7 separate regions of the Homo sapiens genome follow, and regions 2, 3, 4, 5, 6 and 7 are each linked to region 1. A link means that fine-mapping ties the variant in region 1 to the plasma level of a protein whose gene starts in the linked region. Region 1 holds a variant in brackets. A gene starts in each other region. All regions are shown on their reverse strands. Region 1 overlaps GCKR (glucokinase regulator). Region 2 holds the start of MST1 (macrophage stimulating 1). Region 3 holds the start of ERBB3 (erb-b2 receptor tyrosine kinase 3). Region 4 holds the start of FGF21 (fibroblast growth factor 21). Region 5 holds the start of MAMDC4 (MAM domain containing 4). Region 6 holds the start of IGSF9 (immunoglobulin superfamily member 9). Region 7 holds the start of A1BG (alpha-1-B glycoprotein).

The links. PIP is the posterior inclusion probability: the model's chance that the variant is causal. The UK Biobank Pharma Proteomics Project read protein levels with antibody pairs (Olink). The fine-mapping took linkage between variants from a reference panel, not from the people measured, so its PIPs are less certain.
Region 2: it holds the start of MST1, and the variant in region 1 is fine-mapped to the plasma level of the MST1 protein (UK Biobank, PIP above 0.99).
Region 3: ERBB3 starts here. The variant in region 1 is fine-mapped to the plasma level of the ERBB3 protein (UK Biobank, PIP above 0.99).
Region 4: FGF21 starts here. The variant in region 1 is fine-mapped to the plasma level of the FGF21 protein (UK Biobank, PIP above 0.99).
Region 5: MAMDC4 starts here. The variant in region 1 is fine-mapped to the plasma level of the MAMDC4 protein (UK Biobank, PIP above 0.99).
Region 6: it holds the start of IGSF9, and the variant in region 1 is fine-mapped to the plasma level of the IGSF9 protein (UK Biobank, PIP above 0.99).
Region 7: A1BG starts here. The variant in region 1 is fine-mapped to the plasma level of the A1BG protein (UK Biobank, PIP above 0.99).

Annotation. Positions count from the first base shown.
Region 1 is chr2:27,506,218-27,510,338 of GRCh38, reverse strand. It overlaps GCKR (glucokinase regulator), which reads right to left. Exons shown (of 19, transcript NM_001486.4): 11 at 3,760-3,858; 12 at 3,454-3,551; 13 at 3,028-3,104; 14 at 2,562-2,658; 15 at 2,265-2,362; 16 at 2,088-2,171. Among named protein-coding and RNA genes, the nearest start is that of GCKR, 11 kb to the right of the region's middle. The variant A/G (reference allele first, on the strand shown) is at 2,266.
Region 2 is chr3:49,687,843-49,691,963 of GRCh38, reverse strand. It overlaps MST1 (macrophage stimulating 1), which reads left to right and starts at 2,490. Exons shown (of 18, transcript NM_020998.4): 1 at 2,490-3,366; 2 at 4,067-4,121. The coding sequence starts at 3,273. RNF123 (ring finger protein 123) reads right to left here and starts at 2,407. Exons shown (of 39, transcript NM_022064.5): 1 at 2,358-2,407; 2 at 717-834; 3 at 455-539. The coding sequence starts at 798. RefSeq lists an enhancer at 2,577-3,136.
Region 3 is chr12:56,078,127-56,082,247 of GRCh38, reverse strand. It overlaps ERBB3 (erb-b2 receptor tyrosine kinase 3), which reads right to left and starts at 2,083. Exons shown (of 28, transcript NM_001982.4): 1 at 1,866-2,083. The coding sequence starts at 1,947. RefSeq lists an enhancer at 1,436-2,426.
Region 4 is chr19:48,753,846-48,756,069 of GRCh38, reverse strand. It overlaps FGF21 (fibroblast growth factor 21), which reads right to left and starts at 546. Exons shown (of 4, transcript NM_019113.4): 1 at 286-546; 2 at 1-179. It also overlaps a transcript of FUT1 not described here. RefSeq lists enhancers at 1-458, 459-1,324, cis regulatory regions at 579-587, 615-627, 262-822 and promoters at 1-633, 579-670, 102-708, 1-834, 1-943.
Region 5 is chr9:136,849,750-136,853,084 of GRCh38, reverse strand. It overlaps MAMDC4 (MAM domain containing 4), which reads right to left and starts at 739. Exons shown (of 27, transcript NM_206920.3): 1 at 623-739. The coding sequence starts at 668. PHPT1 (phosphohistidine phosphatase 1) reads right to left here. Exons shown (of 3, transcript NM_014172.6): 2 at 2,948-3,072; 3 at 2,061-2,330. The coding sequence ends at 2,238.
Region 6 is chr1:159,943,494-159,947,614 of GRCh38, reverse strand. It overlaps IGSF9 (immunoglobulin superfamily member 9), which reads left to right and starts at 2,002. Exons shown (of 21, transcript NM_001135050.2): 1 at 2,002-2,042; 2 at 3,987-4,121. It overlaps LOC124904438 (a long non-coding RNA gene), which reads right to left. Exons shown (of 3, transcript XR_007066684.1): 2 at 1,163-1,463. RefSeq lists an enhancer at 1,379-1,879 and a silencer at 1,722-2,016.
Region 7 is chr19:58,353,316-58,356,274 of GRCh38, reverse strand. A1BG (alpha-1-B glycoprotein) reads left to right here and starts at 2,783. Exons shown (of 8, transcript NM_130786.4): 1 at 2,783-2,871; 2 at 2,948-2,959. The coding sequence starts at 2,838. It overlaps ZNF497 (zinc finger protein 497), which reads left to right. Exons shown (of 3, transcript NM_198458.3): 3 at 1-1,918. The coding sequence ends at 136. A1BG-AS1 (A1BG antisense RNA 1) reads right to left here. Exons shown (of 4, transcript NR_015380.2): 2 at 2,801-2,896; 3 at 2,418-2,561; 4 at 1,092-1,906.

The DNA.
Region 1 (4,121 bases):
TATTACATTGACACTAAAAATGATAGTAGTGGCCGGGCGTGGTGGCTCACGCCTGTAATCGCAGCACTTTGGGAGGCTGAGGCGGGTGGATCACAAGTTCAGAAGATCGAGACCATCCTGGCTAACACGGTGAAACCCCGTCTCTACTAAAAAATACAAAAAATTAGCCAGGCGTGGTGGCGGGCACCTGTAGTCCCAGCTGCTCAGGAGGCTGAGGCAGGAGAATGGCGTGAACCTGGGAGACAGAGCTTGCAGTGAGCGGAGATCGCGCCACTGCACTCCAGTCTGGGTGACAGAGCGAGACTCCATCTTAAAAAAAAAAAAAATGATAGTAGTGATCTATCAGATGAGAACATGTCCCGGCATGATAAAAATAAATAATAATAATAATAATTTTTGAAAATGATGGTGATCTATTAGTACAGAAAGATGTTCATAAAGCAACTTTAAAACAGCATATCAAGTATGGTCTTACTTTTGTACAAATATATTTATATATGCATATAATAGAAATTTAAAAGGACATTCTCCAAAATTTGTTAGAGTGTTTTTTTTTTTTTTTTGAAGATGGTAGATTTGGAGTGATTTTTTCTTTTTTGCATTTCTGTAATTTGTAACGTCTTTACTATAAAAAATGTATCTATAAAAAATGTATGGCTGTTAAAATGAACATTTTTCTTTAAAAATACAGTGTTTTGGCTAGGCGTAGTGGCTCACGCCTGCAATCTCAGCACTTTGGGAGGCTAAGGCGGGTGGATCACTTGAGTCTAGGAGTTGGCAAACAGCCTGGGCAATGTGGAGAAACCCGATCTCTACAAAAAAAATACAAAAATTAGCCAGTCATGGTGGTGAGTGCCTGTGGTCCTACCTACTTGAGAAGCTGAGGTGGGAGGATCAGTTGAGCAGGGGAGGCGGAGGTTGCAGTGAGCTGAGATGGCACCACTGCACTTTAGTCTGGGCCACAGAGTGAGACTTTGTCTTTAAAAAATAAAAAGAATGAAAGACATTGGAAGGAGAGTGGATTCCCTGTTCAGGGGCAGAGAAACTTCCGCTTCTATACGAGTTCTGAGTCCAGGTAAGTCAGTGTTTCAGCTGTGTCTGGTCAAGCCAGGAAACTTCTGACAGACATGGTTTGAATAACGAATAAGAGACCACATCTCTCCAGAGCAACCCTTCAGGGCCCTGATTCTGCCCATGGAGGGTGGGCAGGTGGTGTATGAGAAAACTGAGAACCAGAGATGTAAAATTGCTTGCTTTCTTGGGCCACACTGTAGAGCTAGACCGGCATCCAGAGCTCCCAATGCCCACACAAAGCTCTAAATTGCAAAGAGCACACACACTGATTATTATTTCTGTAATTATTATCAGTATTTGTGCTGGATTATAATTCATTGGCAAGCAGGGACTATATGCACATAAAGTTATCTGCAATGAATTCAGCATAGTAAACTTGCAAAAAAAAAAAAGGTGTGGTAAAAGCTTTTGGATAATGATGATGACTTTGGTATCAAGAATTAACCTGTCCCAGCCAGGCGCAGCGGCTTACACCTGTAATCCCAGTACTTTGGGAGGTCGAGGCAGGCAGATCACTTGAGGTCAGGAGTTCGAGACCAGCCTGGCCAACATGAGGAAACCCTATCTCTACTAAAAATACAAACAGTAGCCGGGCATGGTGGTGCACACCTGTAGTCCCAGCTACTTGAGGCACGAGAATCACTTGAACCCAAGAGGCAGAGGTTGCAGTGAGCCAAGATTGCACCACTGCACTCCAGCCTGGGCGACAGAGTGAGACTCTGTCTCAAAGTAAAAATAATTAACCTGTCCCAAAGGACAAATGAACATCTGTCAGGTGACTGGAGGCCTATCCCGCAACTTTTTGCATATTCCTAGAGACAGCTGAGCCCAGTAGTTCATTGCCTTGGGAATTCTGACTAGTAACCTGGTAACCCATGACCTTGCCCAGCTGGCTTTGTGAGGGTCAGAGAGGTCTCCAAACTTTCTGCCCTACAGCCTTGGGTTTTTTGATTCTTGGAATCCCTCACCCTCTGAGCCCCTTACTGCAGATAGGACCTTCTCATTCCCCATACCTGGATGAAGTTCCCTTCATATTCAAAGAAAAGCAGTGGCCATGTGATGCTGATGATGGAGGGAAAGAGCTTCTTCAGAGGGATCTGGAGAGAGAGAAAGAGGAGCAGGAGAGGCATCTCCAGGAAGGCCTGGCTGCAACTGCCACCTGGGTCCCTTTGTCACGGCTGGACTCTCACC[A/G]GCAAGGTCTGACCCACGGTGCTGTGTGCCAGGGCCTGGATGTGGTTGGTCTTCTCTTTCACCTGCTCCACTATAGTCTGCACCTCCGTGAGGTTGTCTAGGAGAAGGGGAGGGCATCAGAGTCGAAAGGCTGGCTGTGCAGCTGTTCCTCCTGCTCCCCTGGCTGGGGTCCAGTCAGGATATTCACCCCGTCCCTCCCTCTGAGCAGGTACCCTAAGACCCAGAAAAACAACAGCTCCTCTGAACCATTCTATTTCCCCCTCCCCACCCCTCACCACTCCCATCTTCCCTCTCACCATCCAGGGTGAAAATGAAGACCACAGTATCGATTTCCGTGAGAGAGGGAAGGATGGAAGTCAGGAAGTCCTCCTGGGAGAAGGTGAACTGGGGACCCTGGGGCAGAAGAAGATGGGAGGGTCCCTCCCATGAAAACACTCTAAAGCACAGACTTGAGGACTAAAGGGGGCCGTGGAGGAGATCTAACACTTTTGTGCACAGGTGAAAGAGCTGAAGTTCAAAAGGTACAGTGTTTTGCCCAAGATTATGTAACAAGTCAGTGGACTAGGGCCAAGTTTGGGGACTGGATCTAGAGCTTTCCACACTGCCCATGCTAAGCCAAAGCCTCATGACTTCTGACCCATATTCTCTTCTCTGGACCGTCTATTCCAATGAACTTCCCACCTAGCTCCGCCTTCCCCTTTTCTTCCACCCTCAGCACACTAGTGGTCTCCCCAGCTTCCCCAAGTCCTGTTCTTCTCCGACCTGGTTGGTGAGCTCAGCCTTCTGGTTAAACATGTCACTGTGATCACCAATGAGAAAGCCACGGACATCTCGGAAATCTGGGAAGTTTAAGAACAAGGAGAGAGGAGTGATTGGCTATATAGGAAAGGAAGGTTCTAGGCTTCAGGGGGAGAAAATGGGACTGGGAGGAAAAGTGGCAAGTGGGGCGTAGAGTGAGGAGTAGCCCTTGTGGGAGGCCATAGTTAAGCACAGGGGTGGGAGCTGAGAAGGGATCAAGGACTGAGTTGGGGTTCTAAGGAAGAAGAATTTGACTGAAGTGCCTATTTAGATAGGGAAGGTGGGACACTGAGGAACACCCATGGGTTGGGAGTAGGACAGTGTTTGGAGAGCAGCCCGAATGGTTGGGATCAGGAGGAAGCAGGAAGAACATCTGGACTGGGGTCCCACCAGCACCAAAGGTGTGGATGCACTCTACTCCATCCATGATGGCAATGATGCCCAGGGTCTGCCAGCCAACCAGGTACACGTGGCCTTTCTTCTCCAGACTGAGAATGGGTCAGAGGTCAGGACATGAGAGATCACCGTGCAAAGAGGCCAGAGATGTCCACAGAAGAACACAGGAGTCAACAAACCATGACCCTTCAACATGCAATCCTATCGCCCATACCGTGTTAACATGTCTCACAGAGTCTCCCTGCTCTCAGTATTCTCCATCCGGGCCACATCCTCACCTCTAAACACATATCCACACACCTGGTGCTGACACTCTTCATCAGGGTGGCAATCTTGGGGCTTTGGCTGTAGGTCACCTGATGAGCTCGCTCAAATGTCCGCAAGATTTCCAGGAGGCATCTGGGAGAAAAGCCACCAGCTCTCAAGAAGGGCCCAATTCCCCCTCAGAAAGCTTAGGTGCCTCCCTGAGCGGGGAGGTGAAGGCACAGCTCCCTTAGAACTAAATTCTGCTGGTCCCTGGAGAGGTGCAGAGAGTAGGCCCAGACTGCGTTCCGAAGGGGCAGCAAGGGCTTCTTCAATGGGCAGAAAACAAAAGAGCAGAAAGAGGGACGAGTGCAGCAGGAAAGCACCAGGAGGAGCAGGATCTGAGAGCCACTGGGAAG
Region 2 (4,121 bases), not on the chromosome of region 1:
CCCTCTAAGTTTCTGCTAAAATGTACTTGTAACTTTTATACTGACTACACTTAAAAGTATTAAACTTGTAAAGAAAAGGCCCTGGAGGAGTTTGTTCTTTACAAGGTCAGTCAGAAGCTACAAGGGGCCAGGCTGGGGCCAAGGTGAGGGCAGGTACATGCAGGGGCAGATGCTGGGTATGGAGTAGGTGCCAGGTGCTAGCTGGGCATGAATGTGCACCCGCTCCCTGACCTCTGCTCCCTGACTCTCAGAAGGAACTAGCACTGCCTGGAGACAGGAAGAAGCAGAGTACGGAAGGCAGACTCTCTGGCCAGAGATCTCGCAGCCAGGAGCACAGTGAGAACAGAGCCTAAGCCTATCTGTCCAGAGCCCAGGCTCCCTTTCCCTACAACTGCAGCCTCCTTATTCTGGTCTGGCCCAGCAGAGTGAGGAGGGGCCACCCACCCAGCCATACCTGCTGGTGGCTGCTGGGGGTGCATGTTCAGAAGAGGAAAAGATGCGGTTCAGGTAGTCATTCAGCAGCTTCTCCTGCACAATGCCTGAGCCACAAGTCAGAAGGGAGAAAAGGGCCACATGATCAGTGCAGCTCCTGGCCCCTGCTGGCCCCAGAGACTTCTGGTCCTAGGCCAGCCACAGGTGCAGCAAGGCCTGAGGCCTTTGTCCCTTCCTTCTCCTCCCAACAAGAGGAGCCTCCTTCCTTCCCTGCCAGCTCTTACCTGTGACCCTGGATTTCTCAGCATCTGAGGTCAGCCTATAGCTCTTGCGGGAGAAAGACATGCCGGCCCCCTTGGATGCCATCCTTCATCTCTCATGGGCAGCCAGTGGTCCTGGGGGCTGAGCCAGACACAGAGCCTGTCTACTCAGGGCCAGCCAGGGGCCCCCACACCTGACCTCAGTCCTGCCATGGCAGGAAGGCTTGGGAGCAGGTGAGGCCAGGGGCATGCACACTAACACATAGGGCAGGGGAATGCAGGGGCTCCCAGCTTCCTACACAGGGAGGGTAGCCAGGGTCTAGGCCCATGTAACAGGGACCACTTCTTGTTCTCCAGTGTCCCTGTGCCCAGCACAGGGCTGGGCAGAGAGCAGGTACTAGATATATTTTTGCCGAACCATAACAAAATGTCTCAGCTCTGTGGAAATCAGACCAAAATGTCCAAAGTGAGGTGTCCTAGGGGCAGAGCCCCTGTATCCATCTCAGTTGTAAGCCATACTGAGTCCAGCTCACAACCAGAAGCGACAATCCTACACATTCCCCCAAGTGCAGACCACCACTGGTCTGGTCATCTCTAGCCATAAGTCCCACTTACTCCCCACAAGGCTGGAGCCTCTTTCCTCAGCCCTGGGTTCCTCCCTTCTTTTATCCATGGTCCTGATAGTTTCACCATTCCCACTCACACATGTGGCCTCCCACCTCATCCAAGCACCACCCTTGCCCAGCCCTCATGGCAAACTCCATTGGTCCTCCTAGTGCATCTATCCCTCACATCATGTTGCTGCTGCAGCTGCTCCAGAACCTGCACTGAGTCCCTGGTGCTGGCCTCACTGATGTGTAGCGGTGCTGTCCAACACAGCAGCCGTCATCCACATGAGGTTACTTAAATTTAAAGTTTTAAAAATTAACAATTCGATTTCTCAGTTGCCTTAGCCACATTTCAAGAGTTCAATGACCACATGTGGCTAATGGTTACTCTGTTGGACAGCACAAAGGTAGAACGTTCCCACCATCATATAAAGTTCTATTAGACAGCGCAGGTCTAGAGTTTCGCTCTGCAGCACTGCCTTAGCCAGCACTCCCTACTCTGCAGTTCAGTCTCTTATCTCACCCCAAACAGACCCTCTACTCCCGCCACAAACCCTTGTGGGTCTGCACCACGCCTGCTCCTCGGGAAGGTGATTTTCCCGACCTCGGGCCCTCGGTGGGCGTCCATGATCGGTGCCCCTTCACTACCAGAGTAGTTGAAGATCTGATTAAACTCAGTCATTCATTTGATGAGCAGACCTTCCAGACACCCGGAGTGGGCTCCGGGAGTCAGTTGCTGAGGACCCAGGTGAGAGGCGGACCTTGTCCCCGCCCGGGGACTCCCTGTCACGGCTATCCCGTCCAACCCCGCCGGGGTATCCGGACTCAGAACTGAACCTACTCCGTCTGGGAGCCCAAGGACGGCGAGGGCGGCGCATGGCTCCCCCAAGTCGCCCCCGCCTGGCCCCAAGCTCCACAGGACCTGCCAGACCAGCTTCCGCTCGGAGTTTCGCACCCAGATCCCTGCGCTGCAGGTGCCCTCGCACTGGACTAGCCCGGACCGCGAAGGGAATAGCCGGAACCCGCCAGGCTCAGAGCCCTGCCGCCCCTCACTCACCCGGAGCCTCGGCCGCAGCGACCCGGCTCACAACATCCGCCCAACCTCTTGGCTACGGCGTCCGTTCAGGGCCAAATCACGCGCACGCTTGCGCGCTGAGCCTCCAGCCGCGCACGCGCACTGGCCCGCGCCCAGCCTCCGCTAGGGGACCCCCTCCATGGCTTCCCACCGGGTTGTTCCAGGCCTCAGCTTCGCCGAAAGGCCTCACCACCTCCGACCTCCGCCTGCTCTGGGGATGCTCCCAGCCCTGCTGCGGCAGAACGCGACATGCTAACCGGAATCCCTAGGCCGCCTGTCTCCTACCCATACTTAGAGGCCCCGCTCAGACGGTCCTTAAAACGTCTGAAAGGCCGTTCCTGCCAGAGTCCCTGCTACCTGTTACCTCCACCCCTATTTAGTCCTAGTGGACAGCCTCGCTCACCTTCCCTGGGATGACACTTCTGGCGGCTGAGATGAGCGAGCCTCTCTGGGCTCTGCCGCCGGGTGTGGGCTGACCTGCCTACAGCTGGGGCCTGATAAGGCAGCAGCAAAAGGGTGGAGGGGAGGCAGTGTTGAAGCTGGGGCAAGTAATTTTCCCCAATTTACAGGGAAAAACCGAAATTCAGAAAAGTTTAATGTCACCCAGGGGCTGGAGCCCAGACCTCTGGCAGCTCTCACTTTCACAATGCCCTTGGGCTGACTAGGCTGCAGAGGGGTTTCACCCCAACCCCAGGGCACCTCAAGTGTCCCCACCAAACCTTCCTAACACCTGTCCACTAAGCTGTACTAGGCCCTTGCAACTGACCTATGGGACCTGAGGCCTGGCCCCTCATGGCTCCTGTCACCAGGTCTCAGGTCAGGGTCCAGCAGGCCCTGAGCTGACGTGTGGAGCCAGAGCCACCCAATCCCGTAGGGACAGGTTTCACAACTTCCCGGATGGGGCTGTGGTGGGTCACAGTGCAGCCTCCAGCCAGAAGGATGGGGTGGCTCCCACTCCTGCTGCTTCTGACTCAATGCTTAGGGGTCCCTGGTAAGTGCCCCCAACCCTGATCCCCATCTGCCTTCAGGAGGGGGTTGGCCCCATTCTCCTATTCTAGGATGAGAAAAAAGTCGGGGAGCCAGAGGCTCAGTGGGCATGGGGCAGTGACCTTGCCCTCTTGAGCACAGCTGGGAAGCCCTAGGAACACATAGACATTGCCCACTTAGGCCTCTATTAGCACGTCTGCTCTAGCACTGAAGCAGTGTCAGGACCACACAGATGCACGCACACAGCAGGCAGTGACCCCTCCTGAGCCTGATCTACCCCTCTAACCTAGCATATGCCTTTGTGCAGGTGAGAGCCCAGATTTGGAGTCTGAATGCCTAGCCAGGGCCCCTGGCTGGGTAATGTGATGGCTCTGAGCCTTAGCATTCTCATTTGAGAGATGAGGTGGGGCAAGCTTCATCACCCACTGCTCTCACAGAGCGTATGTGTTAGATCTGAGCCCGGTGCCTGGGCCACTAAACAGAGGCACCGGTGATAACTACCAAGTCTGGGCCTGCTTCCCAGGGGAAATTTTTTTCACAAGTATCTGTGCAGGGGGCTAGACTGGCCCTTGAAAGTGCATACAGGGTCCATCCCAGAAGCCTTGTAGCTTTGATCCCCTGAATGAACAAAGTGTGGACATGCCAATACACATTACTGACATGTATGCCCACCTGACCTGCACCCACTCATGCCTACTCTGCAGGGCAGCGCTCGCCATTGAATGACTTCCAAGTGCTCCGGGGCACAGAGCTACAGCA
Region 3 (4,121 bases), not on the chromosome of region 1:
GGGCACACACATACACACACAATGTACACACGAACACGTACACATTGGTCCTGCTGGCTCAGGAATCTATAGTTGGGTTTCCTTGCAGGAAGTATTTCAGGTGGCCCCATCTATCCCACGTGCCCATAAGTGTTTGTGCAGACTTTGTGTCTGTGCTTGGAAGGCTACAGTGTTAGAGGTAGCCCAGTTCCCTGCTACCCTGAGGGTAAAGTCCATATTACACAAACAGGGGGCAAAGGGCCTGGGCAGGAAGGGAGCACAAACAACACCTCTGGGGAGGAGCTAGGCAGCTTGGGGAGCAGGGCAGGGGAAGGGAATCATAAAAATCCCTGCTGTACCCAGGAACCGGGAGCATAGGGAGGGGCAGTGTCACAGGCCCTCCTTTGGTAGAGAGCACTAGGGGTGGGATAGAGCCAGAATCTCCAGCCCCTCCTCAACCAGAGGCCTCCCCTCCAACATCCCCCACCCCCATCACAGCCAGGACAAAGGGGCTATAGAAGGACTGAGACAGGGCCGGATGCCCAGAGGCTGCAGGACCCAGATAAAGGGTAAAGAGACCCAACCATGCCTGCCTCCTGCCTCCCCAGGGAGGGTGGCCAGACTCTGGTACTCCTGGGTTTCTGGGTGAAGATTGCAGGAGTCTGGATGGGACAGTTATACAGTCACTCCACTGCTCCCTCCCACGCCAGTCCCCAGACCACCCCCCTCCACCAGCTGGGAGTGTTCACATCTAAAAATCCCAGGATCTAAATTTAGGCCCAGCAACTGTGAGGGAAGCACAGGTGGTTTCTTCCACTCCCACACTGGGGAAGGGGCCCTGGCTGTGCCAAACCCCAAGCTGAGATCTGAGGGGAGGGGAGGAGATCCACAGAACTTCAGTCCTCAGGTGTCCACGGTCCCAGAGACACCCCAAAGGGGTGGGCTCAGATAGCATGGGAGTCGGGGGAGGACTGGAGAAGAGCAATCCGGGGCTCTGTCTAGGGTCCTAGAGACAGTGTCAGACAATAAGCAAAATGGGGGCGGGAGGCACAAGCTGAGCCCAGGAAGGACTCCCCAAGGCAGGAGGCTTAGAAAGTAGCAGAGGTGCCCTCTTGATCCTCAGGTTGGGGAGAGAAAAGACCAGAGGCTGGACATCCTTGCCCTTACAGCTCCTGGCCCAGGGCCTTGTGTATAGTAGATGCTCAATAAATATGAGTTGTGTTGACCTGGGTCTTGACAAAGAGATGTTGCTTAAGCTCTGCTATACTGAGGAAAGGGGGCGCCAGCCTCTGTTGGGCCTCCTGCCTGATGTCACCTGAACTTGGCCCTCTGGTTAATCTCAGACCTCCCCAGGGCAGGCTCACTCACGGAAGAGGAGGTGCCGCTCCTGTTTTTCCAACACCAGAGAACAACAACCCCCTCCAACCTTCTGTAGCTCCGCCCTGTCGGCAAAACAACGAAACTAGGGGTAGCTGAAATCGGCGCGGGTGGGGGGCAGGGGGTTGGCGAGCAAACCGAGACCCTTCCCGCCAAGGCCCCCACCTCCAAGCACCTCCTGTTTACAGAATGAAGTTCCCTGCTCCCCTCCCTGCAGGGCCCCTCAGAAGTGTGAACTACTGTTTCGGCCTCAGCCTCTTCTGGGGAGACCAATTAGAGGGTCGGCGACGCTCTGGAGAAGGGTGGCGTGAGGGTCCCGGAATGCCGCCCTCGGCCGGACCACGCCGATAACCCGAGCCTGACCGCCCCTCTCCCAGGTGGTCCTGGCAAACCGGGGGCAGCACCCACAACCCCGCGCCGCCTGAGACCGTGCCCATACCCTCCGAGGCTGCGCGCACTGGGTTCCGGCTCCCAGGTGCCGAGCCCGCCGGTGCTCTCGCGCCACTTACCTGCCTGAGAGTTGCCCACCTCGGAGCCCCGGGCCAGGCTGAAAAGCAAGCCCAGCACCTGCAGAGCGTCGTTCGCCCTCATGACTCCGCAGAGGGTGAAGGGAGCCCAGCCAAGTCCGGCCCGGGGGCCCCTAGGCTAGGACATCGAGGCAAGAGCCACCTGAACCGCTGGCGAATTGGTGGCTGCTGCGGCGACGGCAGCGGAGGTTGCAAATTGCAATCGGAGCCGGAGCCGGAGTCCGGGGAGGGATGGCAGGGGAGGGGTGTGTGTGTGTGAGAGAGAGAGAGAGAGGGAGGGAGGAACGCAGAGGGAAGGGGGTGAGTCACGGCCGCGCCCCCTCCCGCGCGAGGCTGGAGTAGGGATTGCGGAGCCTCGGACCGCCTGCCCCGAGCGTGCCACGCCCCGCGGTCCCGCAACTTGGCGGAGCAGATCGAGGATGGGGCTCACCCTAATTTTTCTGCAGGAGATAGGCCAAGGGGAGGTCGAGATTCCGAAAGCCCCCAGATCCAGGGAAGGGTAATGAATGAGGGAGTGGAAAGCTCTCCAAAGCCCTGCCCCCTGAAAGTTGGCCTCGCCCATTAACCAAATCACTCAACTCCCCTAGCCGGTTGGTTCACTTGGTGGATTTTCTCTCAGAATGTGAATATTTCTCTCTGTGTGTTTTTGAGGGGGAGGGTGTTTTTTGCCTCACGTCCAGGCCACCTCAGTTTCTCCCAGACTCGAAACCCCATAATTCATCCACCCAGCCCAGGAACCCGAGCCACAGAGACCGCGTGAAATTGCACTGTCTCTGGCCGCTTCCTCCTCCAGACCCGGCGCCGGCCGGGCCTCTCCCGGGGATTTGGATGGGGGGCGGGGGTGGTTTCCAGCCTGGGAACAGACCCCGGAGCCCGCCTTTCCACTTCTACCCCGGGAGGGGCTCCCGCACCTGTCGCCGTCCCCTCTGCTGCCCCCCACGGCCGCCTGGGAGAACAGCTGCCTCCCCTTCCACACTGGAGTCTGGCCGCACCGTCCGGGCGGCCGCAGTTCCCGCCGCTCTTCTGGGGACCCAGATGGGCACACACCAAGGCGCTTACACCCTCCCAGGTGCCTTCCAAGTCCAGGCTCTCGCAGGAAAGGGGATGGGGCAGTGAAGTGGGACGCGGAGAGGACACTAGAGACTGCGTCCACGAATGGCGTGGACCTCTGGAACCTCCCCCACCAGCTGCCCGGACCTGGCCAGAGGCGGTCGGGCTCCCTGCGGGTTGCTGCCCAAAGCCCTGCTAGTCCCGGGACGGATCCGACCGGCGCCGCCTGGTGCCCATCCGTGGCAGTGGAGTCCCAGACGGCCTTGCATTTCAAATCCCTTAAACTGGTATTCGGGATCTCGCCCGGAGAGCCTAGTTGTTTTCTCCAGAACTTCAAGCCTGAAGACTTCGAAAACAGTTGAGCCTTGATAAAGAAAAATTTCACCCCTCACACCTAGCAAAGACTACCGGCTAACATTCCTTAAACATGCTCCCTATTGATATGCAACCTAGAGGGCCTGTTCTCTACTGGAGAATCTCCGCTTTGGGGAGGTTGGCTTTCTCCAGACCATGTGTATAGTAGTCATAATAATAATAGCAACAACAAAACCATTAACATATACAAACATTTCCATATATCATTTCATTTACAAAGTATGTCCTCAAACTTAGTGCCTTAGAGAATGTGTCACTTAACATAAAAATTATATGATTTAGGCAATATAACTCCCCATTTTACAGAACTAGAAGTGTGTGACCTCTCCAAGGTCATCCACCTGGTGACAGTGGTTGAGGTGATCAGGTGATTGGGAGGTGGGGCTCAGACTTTTACCTAGGGTTTCTTTCTCTCTTTTTTTTTCTTTTCTTTTTTTTTTTTTTTGAGACAGAGTTTCGCTCTTGTTGCCCAAGCTGGAATGATCCACCTGCTTCAGCCTGCCAAAGTGCTGGGATATCTTCCATCTTAAAAAACAAAACATTCGGCTGGGCGCGGTGGCTCATGCCTGTAATCCCAGCACTTTGGGAGGCCGAGGCGGGCAGATCACTTGAGGTCAGGAGTTCGAGACCAGCCTAGTCAACATAGTGAAACACCGTCTCTACTAAAAATACAAAAATTAGCTGGGCATGATGGTGGGCACCTGTAATCCCAGCTACTTAGGAGACTGAGGCAGGAGAATCGCTTGAACCCGGGAGGTGGAGGTTGCAGTGAGCTGAGATTGCATCACTGCACTCCAGCTTGGGCGACAGAGT
Region 4 (2,224 bases), not on the chromosome of region 1:
GGATAGATGCAGAAGCTCCAGAATTTATACCCAGACAGGCCCGCCCAATCACCCTCCCTGCGCCTGAACCATGATATTTGACCCATTTGGCAGGAGCTACAGAATTCCATCGTGGCAAGGGCAGCCTGAATGGATGATGTAACCTGGGGTCCTTTCAATGGAGGGCCAGACTCCTGGGTCTAGGGGATGAGGGAGGGGAGGATCGGGTTAGCTGGGACCCAGGTGAAAGGGGCTGGGGGCCCACATTCCTGAGTCTCAGAGAGAAGGATCTGGGGTCTCAAGCACCTGAGTCGGAGGGAGGAGGGGTGCTGGGCTCCTGGAAAAACCACCTCTTGGACCATCTATGCAGATCACGCAGAACAAGAGAAATTTCTGCGCCCCATCTGAATTTCTAAGTTTGGGGGGAGGGCGTGATCTGACACTGAGGTTCCTTGATCCTCAGCAAGGCGGCAATTGCTGTATGAAAGAAGCGACCGCATCTGAGACACAAGTATCCTGCCTTGGAAGCCTCTCACCTGGCCGTGGGCCAACCTCAACCTCATCTGTCCCTGCTCAGATGCTCAGACCCTGGACATCCCAGCCTCCTCCTCCCTGATGCAATCCTGGTGTTTCTTTCACCAGAGAAGCCATCCCAGGCCCAGGCAGGTGCTCCTGAAATAACCTGGGGGGAGGGGTGGCTGAAAGTCCCTGACTGGAGTTGGCAGCCAAGCCAGGCCCTGGAGTGGGCACCCAGAGGGAAGACAGGTTGGCTAATTTCCTGGAGCCCCTAAGGGTGCAAGGGTAGGCCTTCTGTGTCTGAGGGAGGAGGGCTGGGGCTCTGGACTCCTGGGTCTGAGGGAGGAGGGGTGGGGGGCCTGGACTCCTGGGTCTGAGGGAGGAGGGTCTGGGCCTGTACTCCTGGATCTGAGGGAGGAGGGGCTGGGGAACTTGGGCTCCTGGGTCTGAGGGAGGAGGGAGCTTTGGTCTGGACTCCTGGGTCTGAGGGAGTAGGGGCTAGGGATCTGGACTCGTGGGTGTGAGGAAGGAGGGGCTGGGGTCCTGGACTCCTGGGTCTGAGGAAGGAGGGGCAGGGGGCTTGGACTCCTGGGTCTGAGGAAGGAGGGGCCGGGAGCCTGGACTCCTAAGTCTGAGGGAGGAGGGTCTGGGGGCCTGGACTGCTGGGTGTGAGCAGAAGGGTCTGGGTGCTGGGAGTCCCGAGCCTGGGGAGATGATGGTTAAACTTCTGGGAATCAAGTCAAACTCCTGAGTCTTTGACATTGATGTATCTTGAATGGGAGGGTCAGTCTGTGGGGAAGGATTACCCAGGTGCCGAGGCAAGAGACTGAAGGCACAAACTGTTTCAGTATAATAAAGAAAATAGTTAGAATAAGAATAGTTATCATACAAATTAGATATAGAGATGATCATGGACAGTATCAATCATTAGTGTAAACATTATTAATCATTAGCTATTACTTTTATTCTTTGTTGTATAACTAATATAACCAGGAAACAACCGGTGGGTATAGGGTCAGGTACTGAAGGGACATTGTGAGAAGTGACCTAGAAGGCAAGAGGTGAGCCTTCTGTCACACCGGCATAAGGGCCTCTTGAGGGCTCCTTGGTCAAGCGGGAACGCCAGTGTCTGGGAAGGCACCCGTTACTCAGCAGACCACGAAAGGGAATCTCCTTTTCTTGGAGGAGTCAGGGAACACTCTGCTCCACCAGCTTCTTGTGGGAGGCTGGGTATTATCTAGGCCTGCCCGCAGTCATCCTGCTGTGCTGTGCTTCAATGGTCACGCTCCTTGTCCTCTTGCATTTTCCTCCCGTACTCCTGGTTCCTCTTTGAAGTTCGTAGTAGATAGCGGTAGAAGAAATAGTGAAAGCCTTTTTTTTTTTTTTTTTGAGGCGGAGTCTCGCTCTGTCCCCCAGGCTGGAGTGCAGTGGCGTGATCTCGGCTCACTGCAATCTCCGCCTCCTGGGTTCACACCATTCTCCTGCCTCACCCTCCCAAATAGCTAGGACTACAGGCGCCCTCCACCACGCGCCCGGATAATTTTTTGTATTTTTAGTAGAGACAGGGTTTCACCGTGTTAGCCAGGATGGCCTCCACCTCCTGACCTTGTGATCCGCCCGCCTCAGCCTCCCAAAGTGCTGGGATTACAGGCGTGAGCCACCGCGCCCGCCCGAAATAGTGAAAGTCTTAAAGTCTTTGATCTTTCTTATAAGTGCAGAGAAGAAAACG
Region 5 (3,335 bases), not on the chromosome of region 1:
GCCAGGTGGCCTGGGGGCAGGGTGACCAGCCATCCCAGCCTGCCTAGGACTATTCAGTTTTAGCACTGGACATCTTTTGTCCGGGGATGCCCCTCAGACCAGGAGATGGAGCAGGGAGGGGCTGGGACCCACAGAGAACTCCCACCCGGCTCAGGACCAAGCACAGCACGTTCCTGTTTCCAGCCCTGAAGAGGCTGGGGAGGGGGACCCGGCCATGGGGCACCCCAAGAAAGGTAGCAGGAACCCAGAGTGCCCAGCAGGGAACTGGGCACTGGGAGGGCGACCCCCAATGGGAGGCATCGACGGGCGGCCCAGGGCCTCCACAAGCTCCACCCAGTCCAAGGGTGGCAGATGAAGGCTGGCAGAGCTGGGGGCACCTCCTGAGCCCTCTTGTCCCAGACTGGGAGGGGAGTCGTGCCTCTTCCTTTGCTTGGCAGGCCCGAGGACCCCATGGGCTGATTCCAGGTCACCCCCCTTGCAGGCCGGCCAAGGTAGTACCTTGCAACCCTCCTTCCCTTTGGGGCTCAGGCATCAGCCCTGGTGTCCGTCACTGCCACACAGATGGTAGGCTCAGAAGCCAGGGCCCCTGGTCCTGCCTCAGGAGTGGGACCAGACTACTTACCCAGGAACAGGACCAAGGCGGGCAGCAGGTGGCTGGACAGAGGCATGGTTGGGCCAGAGGGAGCAGTGCGGCCACACAGGGTGCCTGGGAAGTTCCGTGCGGTTATCAGCCTGCGCTGGCCCCGCACGCTGACTCTGCTGTTAAGTGGAGGGCCCCTCGGCCCGGCCCCACCCAGTGCTGACGGTGCCAAGCATGGGCCGTGAAAGTGGCCCCAGGAGGGGGCCTCTGACCCAGGGTCAGCTCCCACCTGCCCGGCTCCCTCAGACACAAGGTCAGGCTCTTCCACCCTGCCCTGCCCTGCCTGGTGAAGGGGAGGCTCCCACTGGAATGGGGAGGGACCCAGGCACCCCACCAGGACTCTGCTCGGCAGTGTGGGGCGGGCAGAGGCCGCCGTGGCCTCTCACTGTGCCTCTGGCAATAGCGTGGTGCTGGCCAAGGTCAGGACTCAACCAGTCCAGCAGCTGCAGGAGTCCAGCACGTGCACCAGAGCTGGTCCCTGCGTTCTCAGCCGTGGGGAACCTGCCTTTAAGTCAGGCTGTGGAGGATCACGCCGTCATTCATTCGTCCTGAGCAGCCAGGTGCTGTCCGGTGCCAGATACAGGGTCCCTAGGAGCCCAGAAACTTCGGTTTCTCATGGAGCAGACTCATGCTTGGGGCAGGGTCTTTGGGGCTGGGGAAGGAGTGTGGCATTTGGGGCCAGGCCCTGTTTGTGATTTCCCATGGTGTGACCTCGGAGCTTGTGTCACTGAGCCTCAGTGTCCCGGTCTGTAAAATGTGGTTATGACAGTGCCCGTCTGGAGAGGCTGGCCGGAGGACCAGTGAGCTGACAAAGGTGGGGGTGCCCTGTGTACAACCAGCCCTGGCCCCCAGGGTGCCCCTGCACCACCCCATGGAGTCCCACTGTGTATGGGGCTTCCCAGGGCAAGGCCTGAACCCGTGTCCTGCCCACAGCCCTGCCGGGTGCAAGAGGGACCTGGGAGGGGCCTCCAGAGTCAACGTGAGCCTGTGGGGTAGATGCAGCTGTGCGACCTGACCCTGGATACTGGTAGGCCCCATGGGGCTGGTCATGGAAGGAGCCTGCAGGTCACGGAAGGAGCCTCAGGGCAGACAGGACACTGGGGAGCCCTGGGATGGGCTCATAGGAGGGAGCACTGGTGGGCGCCCCAGGTCTTGGCCAGCCCGAGGGACCAGGCCCTGACTCCTCTCGCAAGGGCTTGCCAGACCTCCTCCAAGATGCCCTGGAGGACGATGGCCGTGGGAAGAGCAGTCAGGCCATCAGCGGGCCCCTTTATCAGACCCCAAAGGGCTGAGTGTGCACCGCCACTCCCTGGGGCCACTCCTGTGTTCCCCCACCCACCTGCTTTAGTTAGGGTCTGGGGGCCCCCGGAGGTGGTGACGCAGGGTGCAGGAAGCCAAGGACAGAGTTCAGAAGCCGGCAGGTGTGGCAACACGTTTAATTCTGTGGCCAGGCTAGCCTGTCTCCAAGGCCTGGTGGACAGCACGTCACCAGAGGCTGCCGCAGGAGCAGGCAGGGCCAGCCCTGCAAGAGGAGTGCAGGCAAAGGCGGGGGCTCTGAAGTGGCTGCTGGAGGCAGCAGGCCCCGGGCTGGGAGTGCTCAGTAGCCGTCGTTAGCCCAGGTGACCTCGTAGTCGGGGTACTTGGCTTTGATTTTCTCAGTTGAAATGGCGTGCTGGGCAGGACCATAGGCCTGGAGAAGAGAAGACGCCTGCTGGCACTACCTGGACCCTTCAACCCGATACCCGGCTCTGGGCATCCAGCCACCAGCCACACCAGAAGCGAGTGTGGGAAAGGGATAGGCAGTGCCTGGGGATGCCAAACCCACCATCCCGACCGCCCTTGGGGGCTCCCCTGGGGAGAGGCGACCTCCACAGGCAAGCAAACCTTGATGGTGGATCCTGGGGCCTGAGGCGCCCAGAGGGACGCACGTGGGTCTCATCTGCTGGTGGTTTTTGTGAAGAGCACAGGTGGGGACTCTGAGCTCCACCCAGGTACTGACTGCCTCTGGGGGCCCAGGGCCCAAAGTGCTGGAGGACAGCTAGAGCCCAGCAAGGCCTCCCAAGGCAGGGAGAGGAGACAGCCGGCCATGTCTGGGGGTGTCCGTCCCACCCCTCAGGTCTGGCGTGTGCTCCATGGGGGAATGCAGGAACACAATGGGCCCTGGAGGGAGGGCTCTGCCGCCGACCCTGGGAGAACCCCAGGAAGCCTGCGTGCTCAGCTGGGGCCACGGGTCAGGGCAGCAGGCTCAGGTGGGCCTCGAAGCTGGTACTGGGGCCTCCGGCAGGGCGGGACGGGGCTGCGGCTCACCATGGAATAGCCGTACACGTGAATCTTCTTGTCCTGACTCTGGTGGGAGATGCGCCCGCCGCCCAGACACTCACAGTCGCAGCCTTGCTTCTGCATGTCGCCCGACACTTTGTCGTAGATGTCCGCTGGGATGGGAGGGCGGCCTCAGGACGTGCCCTGGCCGCCCTTGGAGGCCGCGGGAGGAACTCCCAGCCGAAGGGGTCTGAAATCCCAGCTCTGAACAGCCCCTTCCCCAGGAGAGACGAAGCCCCTTGAGGCTGGGACAGGGATGAATGAGCGAAGGAGGGTGGAACCGGGGAGGGCGCGGGAACTGGGAGACTGCTGGGGAGGGTGTCAGGCCGTGTCACGCCCTTCCCGCCCAGGACCTCAGCCTGGGTCAAACCTAGCA
Region 6 (4,121 bases), not on the chromosome of region 1:
AACAGCGGGGAGGGAGATCCTTCCCAATGATTGGTAAAGATCCAAAGACTAAAAAACACTTGGCTCGGCCGGGGGCAGTGGCTCACACCTGTAATCCCAGCATTTTGGGAGGCCGAGGTGGGTGGATCATGAGGTCAGGAGTTCAAGACCAGCCTGGTCAAGATGGTGAAACCCCATCTCTACTAAAAATACAAAAATTAGCCAGGCATGGTGGTGGCCGCCTGTAATCACAGCTGCTTGGGAGGCTGAAGCAGGAGAATCGCTTGAACCCGGGAGGTGGAGGTTGCAGTGAGCCGAGATTGCACCACTGCACTCCAGCCTGGGCGATAGAGTGAGACTCTGTCAAAACAAAAAAACAAACAAACAAAAAACCCGCTTCACTCTTTTACCATTTCTTCTAGCCTTGCTTCCATGCTGCATTCATTAACATGTTTCCATTATAGTCTTATCAATAGATCAGGGTATTATGTTGAAATGCATTGTTGAAAAGCTGCTACTTTGGGACTATTTGCAGGAGGGATGGTGGGAGAGACTGGCCCACTGCTCCTGCCTCTTCCCTTCCATCTCAGTCACCCAAAAGCACTAAAACCTTTACACCTGGAAGAACTGTCCAGCAGGCAGAGCTTACTAAGGATGGAATGGGTACAACAGTAGTGCTGAGCTTCCTGGCCCAGGATGTAATGAGATAGGGGCTTGGATGACTACATGGAGAAATGATGTGCCAGGGATTCTGGGGCCAAGTAGTGCTTAGGCCCATCCTGGAGGTTCTCTCATGATGCTGCAGCAGTGATTCTGTGAGTCTGATGCCTGGTGCACTCAGTTTGAGTCTTAGTACTTCGGATTGGGATGAGATCAGCACGTTGCTTTCATGGAAGGCTTCCAAGGGAGCCAACTGAATGGGAAGGACCTGGACAGGCAATGTTGCTTAAGCCGACCCAGCATCCCTACAGCATCACCAGGCTGAGGAGGTGGAATCTCTGAGGGGCAAGATATGCAAGATATCTTTGTGTCTGAGGGCGAAGCCTCCAAGGGAGTAGGTTTGATGAAGTTTGGGTTGGGTCTCAATCCAGCTCTGCCATAACCTAGTTGGGAAAGCTTGGGCCAAGTTACTTCATCTCCCTGAGCCTCAGTTTTCTCATTAGTCAAAGGGAGCTCTACTTACTTCGCAGGGTTTCTGTGAAGGTTACACAAGAGTTATAAAGCATCTAGTCCAGGGTCTGGCACCCTGCATGGGTCCAGTAAGTGATCTTGTATTTCATTCCTCCCTTTCAATCTCCCGTGTCAGGATATCTGTCGTTTCTCCCCTCTGGGCCTGTTTCTCTGGGTCGTTGGTGCCAGAGCTGCCTTGGGAGCTGACTTGGCAACCCCACGCTCAGAGCACAGCCTTCCTCAGCTGCACACGGTGGGAGGCGCCTGGGCAAGATTTGGGAGCTCGCCAATGCAGACAGGTATTTCCAGTCCTGCTAGAGAAGCAATGGGTGGAGGTAGAAATGGGGATGGGGGAGGAGATCGGATGAGCCCGGGACCTGGGTGGATCCCCTGGGAGGAGGGCGGGGAGTCATGCTCCCCGCCTGGTTCTCCTACCCCCAGGCTCAGATTTCAACCCTCGCTGCCGCCTCTGTGGCGCGCCCGTTCGGGGAGCGGAGAGGGTCGCCCGTAGGTTCCGAAAGAAGGACGGCGTACCAGTAGCCTGGCAAGGGGCCAGCTCCCGCAGCCCTGGAGCGCGAGCCGGACCCTGCTGCCCCTCTTGCTGGCGGCGGGAAGCGGCCCACCGGCCTTTCCACGCTTGGCTGTGCAGAGGTCCACGAGGGGGCGACCTGAGCCCACGTGCAGCCGAGCTCTTCCCTCCTGAAACTACAACTCCCAGGCCGCTCAGGGGTCCCGCCCGCCTCGCCGTGCCTCTGGCGGCTCCAATTGGCCGCCGCGGGAGGGGGATTGGCGGTCTCCAGGGCGACGGGAGGCGCTCGGGGCATCCGAGGCGGGGAGGCGGGTCCGCCCCCTATTGTGTAGCGGCGAGAGTGGAGCCGAGCGGTGCGGAGCAGGTGAGGGAGGGGGCGTACTGGAGGTATAGAAGTGGTGGTGCTGGTAGTGCGGAGTTATGGGGGACAGGAGAAAGCGGGGAGTTCTAGAGAGAAGTGGAATTCGTTGCAGGAGTAGAACTAGGGGAGTTCTGGGGAGTGAAGTGGAATTCTTGGCGGGTGGGTGGGAGTTCCCGGAGAACTGCAGGAGTTCTGGAGGCAATGTGGGGGAGTTCTTGGTGGGTTCTAAGAGAAAGGAGGAGTTCCAGGGGACCAGAGAATGCGAGGGAGAAAGGAATTGTTGGGGGTGGGGTATCAGAATTGTATTGTGGGCTGATGCAGGAGAATCCCAGGGAGGGGAATTATCGGGAGGAGAGGATGGGGAGAAGTGGCTGGGGGGTGGGGAGACCAGAAGGGAGTTCTTTATAGTGCAGGAGACCTGCTGCAATTGGAGATCAGGTGCGAGAAGCTGGAATTGTGGGGGGATTGTGCGTAGTAGCGATAACTGGGAAGGGAGTAATGGGAGGACGAGGGAGTGGTGTGTGGGGAGACTAGAAGGGTGAGGAAATAGTGGAGGCCGGGGGAGTTGGAAAGATATTAAGAGACTGGGAGGAATTCTAGGGATGCCTAGTTACTCAGAGTCTCGGAAAACAACCAGGAGAGAACTAGGGGGTTCCTATATACTTGGAAAAAGGTTTTTCAGGGAAGTGTGGGAGAGCTGCCTGGAGGCAGTGGGAAACAGGGGGCTTGGTTGCTAGTGAATTGCCAGAAGTTAGACATACAGGATCATTAAGTAGAGGCAAGGATCAGACTCTGTGGAGGATGTTTTATAGTCTGTCCTGAACTTTGCGGCCAAGAGTGGGTTGGAGGACTCAGAGCAGAGTCCACTTGGCAGTGCCAGGCCCTGGCATGGACCCTCTGGCTCTCTGAGACTGCCCTAGGATCTGTGGGGCTGTCAGAAGCTCCTACCCTCCATGCCCCAGGGTTAATTTTGTACACTTCAGGGACTCACAGGCTTTTTTTTGGACCATGCCTCTGGGGTTGGGGAAGAAAGAGCTTGACAAACCCTGGCACCCCGAAGATATTGGAGGGGAGTGAGTGGGAGGGATTTGGGTGAGGTCCTTGGGTGGTGGTGCCTGGCAGGGGGAGGGCTGCTTGGCAGTATCGTGAGGAAGTGGCGCCAGCTGCCAGCCCCGGGACCTGTCCAGACCTGGAGGATGCTGCCTGGATCCCCCATACTGGCAGGTGGGGGAGGCAGCTCCTCCTCTCCCAAGTGCCTGACTCACTCACTGCCAAAGCAGTGTAGGGAGACTGAATGGAGAAAGGCCTCGGGTCCTCAGCTTCCAGAGTTTTTCATAGAGGCTGGGGAAATGGGACAAGGGATTGTATCGGGGTGTCCTGGGGACCACTTTCTGAGGCTTAAGCGCCCTGGATTTGCCCTTGACTGGCTCTCTGCCCCTGAGCAGATATCCTCAGGGCCCTTATTTGTCACAGAGGGGTGAAGGCGACAGCACTGGTTCCATCTTGCTGCTATACCTTGTGAGCATCAAGAGTAAGGAAAGAAGCGAGAGCAGCCTAGGCCATGAGAGTCTTGATCTACCATACTTCCTTCAAAAATATTTTTCCAAGCATATGAGGAACCCCAGTTCTCTTCTGGCTTAGTTTTTCAAGACCCTCAGAATGCAGGCATCCCCAGAATCCTTCCACATTTCCTAAGACCTTCCCAACTCTCCCAGCCTCCCCCATTTCCTCACCTTTCTAGTATCTGCATTCAGCACTCACCATTCTCCCAGTACTCCTACCCCTGCTCTTACTCCCCAGGGCTTCAAGATCCCCCCCTTCCCCCTACCCCTCACTTAACTACACTCCTCCCTCCTTTCTCTTCCCAGTGCCTTTCTCTAATGGTGGGGTTTCTTCTGGGCTCCAGTATTGGCCAACTCTGCATGTTGCCTTGTACTTTTCATTTAGATCTGGTGGTTCTCCGGAGAGCAGCTTCCTCGGGTGTTACATGAGCCAAGCCCTCACTGTACAGAAGAGTGAGAGCTGAAACCTGTTCCCTGAGCTGATCAGAAGGACATCCCTTGGCCCCTCCATCTGGGCTCC
Region 7 (2,959 bases), not on the chromosome of region 1:
GTCGGAGCTCTTAAGCCACCGGCGCACGCACACGGGCGAGAGGCCCTACGCTTGCGGCGAGTGCGGGAAGCCTTTCAGCCACCGTTGCAACCTCAACGAGCACCAGAAGCGGCACGGGGGCCGCGCTGCGCCCTGACCCGAGGACGCCCTGAGCGGGAGGTCGCGGACACACGGCATTGCGGGGTCTCGGGCGTGAGTGCGCTGTCTGCTGGCCCAGACTTTTTCGGGCCGCCGGTGCGGGCGCCCTCCTGCTGGGAGTGCAGGGGCGGCCTTGGGTGTGGAGAACCCTGGCTGCACAGTCCCTTTGACGATAGTCCACCGGCCACCCAGGCCTGTCTGGGGACATGTAGGATGGGCTCTTACCCCAGGGAGGGCGGCAGGCTCCACTTCGGCGAGAGGTTCGTCCATGCAGAGGTGGGCAAGAACTGGGGTCTCCGACAGGTGTGGCTATTTCTTTGAGTTCTCTGGCACTGTCAAAAGCAGCCAACCCACCCCCCAGTCCACATGGTCACCACTGCTGCTACCAGCTGCTCAGTGCAGTGGCCACTGTGTCTCCTAAGGTGCTCGCTTCAGTCAGCACTTCATCTCAGGCAACCACAGGTGACAGTTAAACATGATGAAACCGCATGCTATGGCTTTCTAGTGTCTCATATTCTGTTGGCAAGAAGCTCAGCACTGCATTCCTGACCGAGGTCAGAACCAGATCAATCTCAGAATCTCACCTGTGTAGGTCTGTTTCATGGGACTTTTCTTTTTTGGGGGAGGGGGCAGGGTTTCACTCTGTCACCCAGGCTGGAGTGCAGTGGTGCAATCACTGTTTATTGCAGCCGCGACTTCTTAGGCTCAGGTGATCCTCCCACCTCAGCCTCCCAAGCAGCTGGGATGACAGACTTGCGTCACTACACCTGGCTAATTTTAAAATTTTTTGTAAGGACAGTGTCTCACCATGTTGCCTAGGCGGGTCTCAAAACTCCTGGGCTCAAGTGATCCTCCTGCCTCAGCCTCCCAAAGCGTTGGGATTATAGGCGTGAGCCACCGCACCTGGCCAGGGAACCTTCTTTATACCAAGTACCACACCAGTCAGAGTCAAGTCAGGAAATAGAAACCACACTAGGTATTTCAAACAGAGGGGATATAAGTTAGGGACTGATTGTGCAGGTTTTGCAAGGCTCAGAGAGCAAAAGTGGATGTTGCAGAATCTCAGAGCTGGATACTTGCAGGAAGCTGCTACCACCCTTAGGGCTGGAGAACCCAGGGAAGCTAAGAGGAGGGTGCAACGAGGCTGGTGTTGGGACTGCCAAAGGAAACACAGAATGACAGCTCCATCTCTGCAGACCTCAGATTTGACCAGGCCTCTGGCTGCCTGGGCAGCCTCATTGCCAATGGGCTGAAAGGTTCTGTCACTGTTCAGTGGTCTGACTTCTGAGTTCTGTGCACACCCTGAGCTCTGCTCCTCTGGCCTGGCCACCAGTCCTTGTCTGAGTGCCCCAGGTCTGGTTATGACTTCAGGCCTCAGCACCTGGTTGTCTCTTCTGCAAAGAATGCATTCTCCCCCAGTCCACCCAGAACACACAGCCTCCATCCAGGTACTGGCTCTGAGCAGGACAGAGAGCATGCAGCAGGTGCTCAGCAATATGGAAATGGGACCAAACAGAGGGAGTCTCCACAGCTCCCCGTCCCTCACAGCAGAAGCCAGAGCCGCTGCAGTGCCCAGCTGGTCTTCATCACGTCTATGAGCTCTGCAATCGCTCTGCAGTCGCCTCAACTCCTGGTCTCCTCTGCTCCTTCTCACTGCACCCGCATCTCCCATGTTTGCACTGGCTGTTCCCTCTGCCTGGAATGCTCCTTGCCCAGTTATCCCACTGTCTTCTTTGCATCTGGCACACAGTAGATGCTCAATAAATGCCTGTGGAATGAATGAGTGGGGAGGATGCAGTGCAGGGGGCAGATGAGGGCTAGGCGGTTGCCCTGGGCCCTCACACTCGTAGCGGAGCTAGGCTGGGACACCCAGGGTGGGGACCAGACCTCCCCGGGTGGGAATGACAGGATGTCCATGGAGGCTGAGTGTGAAAGCACCACGGTCTCACCCCTGTCCTGTTCCATCCCAACAGGCTGTGGTGAGGAGAGGGGGAGGCAGGGGAAGCGGGAGGCCTGGCCTCCAGGCAGCAGGCTATAGCCACATGAGTGACCACCAGCAGCTCAGGTAACTGAGCACATGTCACGGGTAGGCCTGGGAAGCGCAGGTCTCAGCTGAATGACCTGGGTGGAAATCCGACTCCAGAGCCGTGGTGGGTCACACCATGCAGAATGAACCAGTGATGGAGAAGGAACCACAGTCCTCAGGAAGAGTGAGGGTGCACCTCCAGACAGCCCATGTGAGGGCAACCGCAGAAAGTCTGAAAAGAGGTGAACCCCACCTTTGGTGTCACATGTGCAGTGTGGTGTGACAGGGAGGGGCTCGCTGGGCTTCAGCCCCGGCACTCTCCACTTGACCTCAGCAGCTCCAGGTAGAGTGGGGAGAACTCAGCGTCTCCTTCTAGAACAGGTTCTAGGATCCATCACTGAAATGAGGATGAGGTGGTTTTAACATCATTTTATCACTCTTGATTTAGTTTATTAATCATACATGATTATTGATTATAATTGTTGCTGGGCATCCTGAGGCCTCAGAAGTTCACCCTTTGCCCTGACCCCATGGGGGCCCTGCCCCCGCCTTCCGGGAAGGACAAACACGGGAAGAGGTCAGTGCCCGAGCCACCCCACCGCCCTCCCTTGGGGCCTCATTGCTGCAGACGCTCACCCCAGACACTCACTGCACCGGAGTGAGCGCGACCATCATGTCCATGCTCGTGGTCTTTCTCTTGCTGTGGGGTGAGGCCTCCTGGGGTCTGGGTCCCTGGGGCGGGAGGGGGCGGGAACAGGAGCCTTACGGGGGCTGTCTCCGCAGGTGTCACCTGGG